Homo sapiens: one gene and its partner. The protein of the gene in region 1 purifies or fractionates together with the protein of each later gene. This does not show direct contact. Each region holds a gene or a part of one and is shown on either strand. Other genes may lie near its edges.

Region 1 (3,500 bases):
CACAGCCCAGTGCAGGGAGACAGACCACTGATGTGACAGTGACAACCCAGAGAGGGCTGGAATGGGGAGTCCAGGGGGCTGGGACAACCCAGCGGGGCATCTAACCCAGTTTGTGGGTAGTCTGGGAGGGCTTCCCATAGGAGGGGGCACTGGGGCTGAGACCTGGAAGCAGGAGAGCAGGTGTCCCTGAGGGATGCCCATTTTGGGGCTCTGGGTGCTCGGTCAGCCCCTCCCTCCCCGCACTGGCCAGGCCCTGACACCCTGGCGTCTGCTCCTCCACCCAGGTGAAATCTGAACGGAGCAGAAACTCTCGCAAGTGGTGCCGCCGCCGGGGCATAGAGGAGCATCGACTGTACGAAATGGCCAACCTTCGGCGCCAGTTCAAGGTGAGGCTCGGGAGGAGGGGTAAGGCCGGCCCCACTCAGGCAGACGTGTGTAAGCACACTCCAGAACACTGCTTCCCCTTCCCAGACAGTGGTCAGACCAGAATCCCACCCTGCACCCACCTCCCCCACCACCCGGTGACCAGGTGTTGGGGCAGCTGGGCAGAGCAAAGGGAGCAGAAATCCAGGAGGGCTTCCTGGAGGGGTGGACCGAGTCAGTGGACATGCAGCATCCTCGGGAAGAGCTCGCCCTCCGGACTGGGGATGCTGAGCTGGCTGCATGGGCATGGTGTTGGAGGCAGCCTACGGTTGTGGTTGGCCGGCACATCTGGAGCCAGACACCTCAGCCACAGATCCCAGCTCTGCCATTTCTGACAGCGTGGCCCCGGGTGTGTTACTGCTTGTCTCTGGGCCTCAGCTTCCCCTCGATAAAAAGAGAGGATAAAAATAGCACTTGCCAGCCGGGCGTGGTGGCTCACGCCTATAATCCTAGCACTTTGGGAGGGCGAGGTGGGTGGATCACGAGGTCAGGAGATCGTGACCATCCTGGACAACATGGTAAAACTCCGTCTCTTCTAAAAATACAAAAATTAGCCAGGCATGGTGGCACGTGCCTGTAATCCCAGCTACTTGGGAGGCTGAAGCAGGAGAGTCGTTTGAACCCAGGAGGTGGAGGTTGTGGTGAGCCGAGATTGAGCCATTGCACTCCAGCCTGGGCAACAAGAGCGAAACTCCACTCAAAAAAAAAAAAAAAAAAAGATTTGGGTTTCTCCTGCGCCCACACAGTTCTGCAGCTTGTTTCATAGATACTGTTCTCCATCTGAGTGCAGACAGACCTGCTGTTAGGTCCTTTTCCATGGTTGTATCCATGGATTGAGAATAGAATAAAAGGGTTCCTGGTGTAATCCATTCTGTTTGGTTGGAGATGGGCAAGCTGAGGCCCAGAGGGGGCAGTCACCCAGCCGACACCTCCGGTACCATTTCTGGGGTCCCGGTGTTGGGGACCACAGATGCCCCGATTGCTCTGAGCATGGGTCCCGAGTTCTCTCTGGCTGCTAGAGCAGTGTTCAGGCTTCATTGGTCCCCAGATGCTTTGAGAATCTAATGGAAAGTGTGAGCCCTTTGCACCCACATGCACACATACAGACACACATGCACGCACAATCTCCTGTGTCCTCCATCGGTCAGGGCTCAGCAGGAAACAGAAGGTCCAACCAAATTGGGTCACTTGAGGAATGTTGACAAGATGTGGGCACGGGGAGGGCAGGGGTCTCAGATTTTATGGGTCACAGGCAGCTGGAGGGTCTGTTGGGTCCAGATGGCCAACCCCGCCGAGCCCCCTCCTCTCTCCACTTGGTCGTTCTGGGATGAGGCCCAGGACTTGGCATTCCCAGCATGTGCCTAGATGCCCCAGGGCTACACTCAGAAGCACTAGTGCAGGACGCCCACCAGGGCTGTGTGGGAAAGCAGGGCCCCCCAGACCCAAGGGGCAGGTGGGGCAGTCAGCAGAGCCTGGAGCCAGCTGTGGGAAAAGGCACTGGACGCCCGCACCTGCCTCCTCTTGCCCCTGGCCCCGGTGTTCCCTCCACTGACCAGCGAGGACAGCTCTCTCTCTGGAGCAGCGATCCATGCCCAGCACCATGCGAGGGGCTGTTTTCAGCCCCCTTTGGGCACTAGCAGCCCTGCCACTGGGAGGGTCCCCATTTCCATGAGTCCAGAGCCCACTGAGTCTGCCCTGAGGCCCTCACCCCTACCCACCTGCCCCTAGGAGCTGTTGGAGGACCACGGGCTGCTGGCTGGGGCCCAGGCCGCGCAGGTAGGGGACAGCTACAGTCGGTTGCAGCAGCGCCGGGAGCGCCGGGCCCTGCACCAGCTGAAACGCCAGCACGAGGAGGGCGCGGGGCGCAGGCGCAAGGTGCTGCGGCTGCAGGAGGAGCAGGACGGCGGCTCCAGTGACGAGGACAGGGCTGGCCCAGCCCCCCCAGGGGCCAGTGATGGCGTGGACATCCAGGTGGGCGCCATGGGCTGTGGGGTGTGGGGGTTTACCAAGGTGGGCCTTGGCCTCTCCTGGGGGGGTCCCAGGGGACATGGCCCTGTCCTCATTTCAGGAGCCGGGTTTCCATGGACGGTGCTTGGTCCCAGGTATCTGCAGAGCCTGGGGGTCTGCGGATCATGGTAGGAGCCCCTCAGGTCCCCTAAGACTCTGCCTCCCCGTGCTCCCCCCAGGATGTGAAGTTCAAGCTTCGGCATGACCTGGCGCAGCTGCAGGCCGCTGCCAGCTCAGCCCAGGACCTGAGCCGCGAGCAGCTGGCTCTGCTGAAGCTGGTGCTGGGCCGGGGCCTGTACCCACAGCTGGCCGTCCCCGACGCCTTCAACAGCAGCCGAAAGGACTCAGACCAGGTGGGGCCTGTTCTGCCCCATCCTATGTTTTGTCCTCCAACACACGAACCCTGAGTGCCTGTCCTGTGCCGGGAATGCAGTGGTGACTGAAACAACCCTGGTTCTGTCCCCATGGGGCTCACAACCCAGTGGGAGGACAGACCCATCCCCAGACAACCCAGAGTGGGCAGGGCTTGGGGAGTCAAGAGCACTATAGGAGCCCACAGGGGGCATCTGCCCCAGATTTGGAGGAGTCAGGGAGGGCTTCCTGGAGGAGGGAACCTGGGCCAGAGGGTGGAGGAGAGGCATCCTGGGCAGAGGAGAGAGCAGATAGGAGGGCTTGTGCTTTCTCTCTGTCCTCCGCAGATTTTCCACACGCAGGCCAAGCAGGGCGCCGTGCTGCACCCCACCTGCGTCTTCGCTGGCAGCCCCGAGGTGCTGCACGCACAGGAGCTGGAGGCCAGCAACTGCGACGGAAGCCGAGGTACAGTGAGCCCAGGCGGAAGGAACCCCCATCCGGGATGTGAGGGGCAGGGATACCGTGAACTCCCAGGCCCCTCTGGCTGGGGCTCCCACACCGGCCCAGGCTGGTATTGACGGGGGCCCACAGGAGGGGAAGTTCCAGGGCCAGGCCTCCCTGGGTAGCCTTGGGTGACTCACCCCTGCTGGGCCTCACCTTCCGCATGGTGGTGATAGTCAACCTAAGCCAGTGTGGCTGTGCCCAGAGAGTGAGCACCG
Region 2 (3,500 bases), on another chromosome or scaffold:
GGGAAAGCAGGGAGAAAATGGGTTGCATGAGCACCCAGATGGTTTTCTGTTCTATTGATCAGCATGTGGAGTTAACACCTTGATTGTCAAATTGTCTAGGAATATTTTAATAATGTTGGTACAGATATAGGGAAGTTTATAGGAAATATTGGTCTCTTTTATATTAATGGCTTTGTAGATGGAGGAGGCACAGGATGACAGCTGAAAAGAGGTGCATTCAGATTCATTTAAATATGCCTTGGCACATTTATTTTGAATACCACTTATGTACTCTGGGCCCATTGTAAACAAACGGCCCAGAGTTAAGTGGAGATACACAATTAAATAACCACGCAAATGAGCTCAGAATTGCACACGGAGATAACTGCTGCAAAGACAGTAAACACAGTTGTGAAGCCTCATATAACAAAGGGGCCTGAGTCACTAATGGTTCTCCTGAGGGAAAGACAATTGAGCCCATAACTGAAGGGAGAGCAGGAATTAACACTGCAAAAAGTAGGAAAGAACTCACTAGGAGAAAGGCACCTGGTGGGCAGAGGGTACTTTAAGTATATGCAGTTCCTGAGGTTTTTTTTGCCTCAGCAGTAAATGGACACTCTACTAGGCTAAGTAAATCTTCATCATTTCTTCTGCCTGTGTGTGTGTGTTCTGGTCTCTTCTTCCCTCACTGAAAGGTTATGTGCTATTTACTTCTTGAGGCTGTCAGCATGCTTGCCTCTCATCACACACACACACACACACACACACACACACACACACACACACACACCCCTCTTCTGTTGTTTCTAACCAGTACGGCCTGAGAAACCAGAGAAATCAATGTGTGTGGACTGGTATATGGGCTATGCTACCCTGAATTTGTGACATGTGTCTTAACTTCTCAGAAGCTTACTCCTATGTTGTCTATCACATTTTGGCTAAGAGGCCTCCGGAAAAATAAAGTTCATACTCAGAACTGCCCAAGCTAAAAGAAAAGCTATAAATAAACTCACCTGCTTCTGATTAACCACTGCCCACCTTTTCTTGTTTACTGCCCTGCCTCCTCCAAATGAATCTTTCCATCTTATGATAGCTCCTGAAACCTCTAAGGTTACATTGAACATGTAGTCAACAAATCCAATAGCCTCTTTCCAGTGCTTCCCCATCTGACCCATTTGTATTATGGGACACCGCTGACCACTCCTTTGAAACCCTCTCATCCTTTGGCTCCGAAAGTGATATTCTCGATTCTTGTCGTTCCTCTATGACCACTGCTCAGTCTCCTTTGCTAATTTATCCTCGAGCCCTCTTCTCCCTGGGCAATTGTACTCATTCCCAAGGATTTAGCTATTACAAATACACACACACACACACACACACACACACACACACACACAAAGAAAAGCAAAAAAAGAAAAAATTTCCAACTCTACTTCTTACCTCTCCTGAGCTCTGAACTTTATTTCCTCTGCCTATCAGAAATTTTCACCTCAATAACTTGAACATCCTTCAAAAACACTATGTTCAAAATGAACTCCTTCATATCACGAACCCTCCCCCTCCCCAAAACAAAGATACACAGATATATACAAATAAACACACCTATTTCCCTAATGTGTTTTACTGAATTCCTGAATTGTAAACCTTGAAATCATCCTAAATATATTCTGATTTCTCATTTCCCACAGACAATTGATGGGCTATTTTTATCAATTTTATCTCAATACAGTTCTTACATCCATTCCCATTACCTTTTGGGACTCCATTAACATTCACGTGCACTACGGAAATGGCTTCCTAAATGATACCCATCACTGTATCCTCAGGGTCGAGGAAAAGCTTAGCAGACACTATGCCTGCCATAAGTAATTTATTGAATAAATGCTTACCATGCTATACTCTATACTGAAGCCAGTTATCTTTTTAAAACAGTCTCCTGATTTATAGTGTTAAGTGAAAAAAGCAAAACACAGACTACATCTAAAGTATGATTCTAACAACAACATAATTTTAAAAATTAAAAAGATTACCCCCTAAAACTTTTTTTAAAAAGTATGATAAAAAAGACAAATATACTGTGTCTGCATACAACATTTTATGAAAGAAGACAACAAAATATTAACCGGTAACCTTTGAGGAGTGATAACAGAGGTTTAGGAAAGCAGAAAAAAACTTTTACTTTTCACTTCATATTATTCTCCATCATTTGAAATTTTCAGATTGTTTTTAAGAAGTACAATATACATGGCCAAGCAAAACAAAACAATCGGCCTACAAGGAATCCTGGTTCAGAGGATAAAATATTTCCAATCTAATCTCAAAACACCAGATGTTCCAATCTTATCTTCTTCCAATCCTTACCACTTGCTCTCAGTATACTCACTCTAGCAGACCAGTATCTTCTTAGTTCCCCCAAACAACCATTGGTGTTTCATTCCTAATATGCTTTTAACTCTGACTGGAAATGTCCTTCTTTTCCCTACTTTGCCTAGAAAACTGCCTGTAAAAATCTAGCTTAAATGTAAGTCCTCTGTAAAAGCTTCCCCTACTGACTCCTTCATTTGAGCTCCCTGTGGGACTTAACATATGCTTCCACAGCAGTTTGTGTAGTGATTTATTAGTCATGTTTCTGCTAAAAAATCTTGCCTCTAGGTGACAACAAGTCCTTGCTCACAATATATCCTCAAATATCTAATGTATGAATATCCACCAGTCTTTCCATTATTCTATATACATCCAGTAGCTTCGAGGCTGCTGCTAAAAACCATTTCATGCTCTTATGAGACGTTTGCTACCACAGCATTCAATGATCTCAGCAACAAACTTATAACCTAGACAATAATGCAATCAGATTTTACTGCAGTGACACACCTAACAGCTACTCTGTAGCATGTAAAAGCCTCAACAGGACGATTAACCAGCAAAGACTAATCCACCCACAAATTACCTAGATGCTCAGACCAATCCACCAGTTGTTATACTTTAGCACATGTTCAGCTTTAAGAATCTTGACAATCCTTCATCGAGATGATGCTCGATTCTTTATTCCTTTAATAAAAAGCTTTTTTTTAATCCCTTCTTCCTCCTTTTTCTTCCTCAAATTCACACCACCTAATAACACCTTCCTCTACTGATTCCACCTTTGATTGTTCCTTAGGATTCTGCAATGTGGTGCTTTTGTGTGAATTAGATTTAGTAGCCCTAGTGCACAAACTATACGTAAATTTTTAGACTAAATACCCTGCACCTTAAATATCATTGAGTTTATAAAACTCCACTTATTGAGAGTTAACAAATATTTACTCACAGAAATGATGTTATACAATATTATACTGAGGTTAGATCTCCAGGAAGCTGACAAAAACCTTCTTAACCTACAATATCCTTTAACACTAACTAGCAAAAAGCCTAAATTTTAAATTAGCAGGACTGACAAAATTTTAGGTAAAACTATTCCTGTTTCTTACATCACGGCTAGAATTGAAGACTTGGGTCTTTTAGTTCTTACCAGGCAGGTGAAT

What was found. The genes of interacting proteins can lie anywhere in the genome.
Region 2: the proteins of DHX34 (region 1) and FBXO38 purify together in Homo sapiens (affinity purification with mass spectrometry; one large-scale study listed by BioGRID and IntAct). This does not show direct contact.

Annotation. Positions count from the first base shown.
Region 1 is NC_000019.10:47,373,315-47,376,814, forward strand, and holds part of DHX34 (probable ATP-dependent RNA helicase DHX34), read left to right. Parts: intron 1-284; coding exon 285-386; intron 387-2,151; coding exon 2,152-2,394; intron 2,395-2,609; coding exon 2,610-2,783; intron 2,784-3,128; coding exon 3,129-3,246; intron 3,247-3,500. UniProt on the Homo sapiens protein: Probable ATP-binding RNA helicase required for nonsense-mediated decay (NMD) degradation of mRNA transcripts containing premature stop codons. Promotes the phosphorylation of UPF1 along with its interaction with key NMD pathway proteins UPF2 and EIF4A3.
Region 2 is NC_000005.10:148,390,458-148,393,957, reverse strand, and holds part of FBXO38 (F-box only protein 38), read right to left. Parts: intron 1-3,500. UniProt on the Homo sapiens protein: Substrate recognition component of a SCF (SKP1-CUL1-F-box protein) E3 ubiquitin-protein ligase complex which mediates the ubiquitination and subsequent proteasomal degradation of PDCD1/PD-1, thereby regulating T-cells-mediated immunity.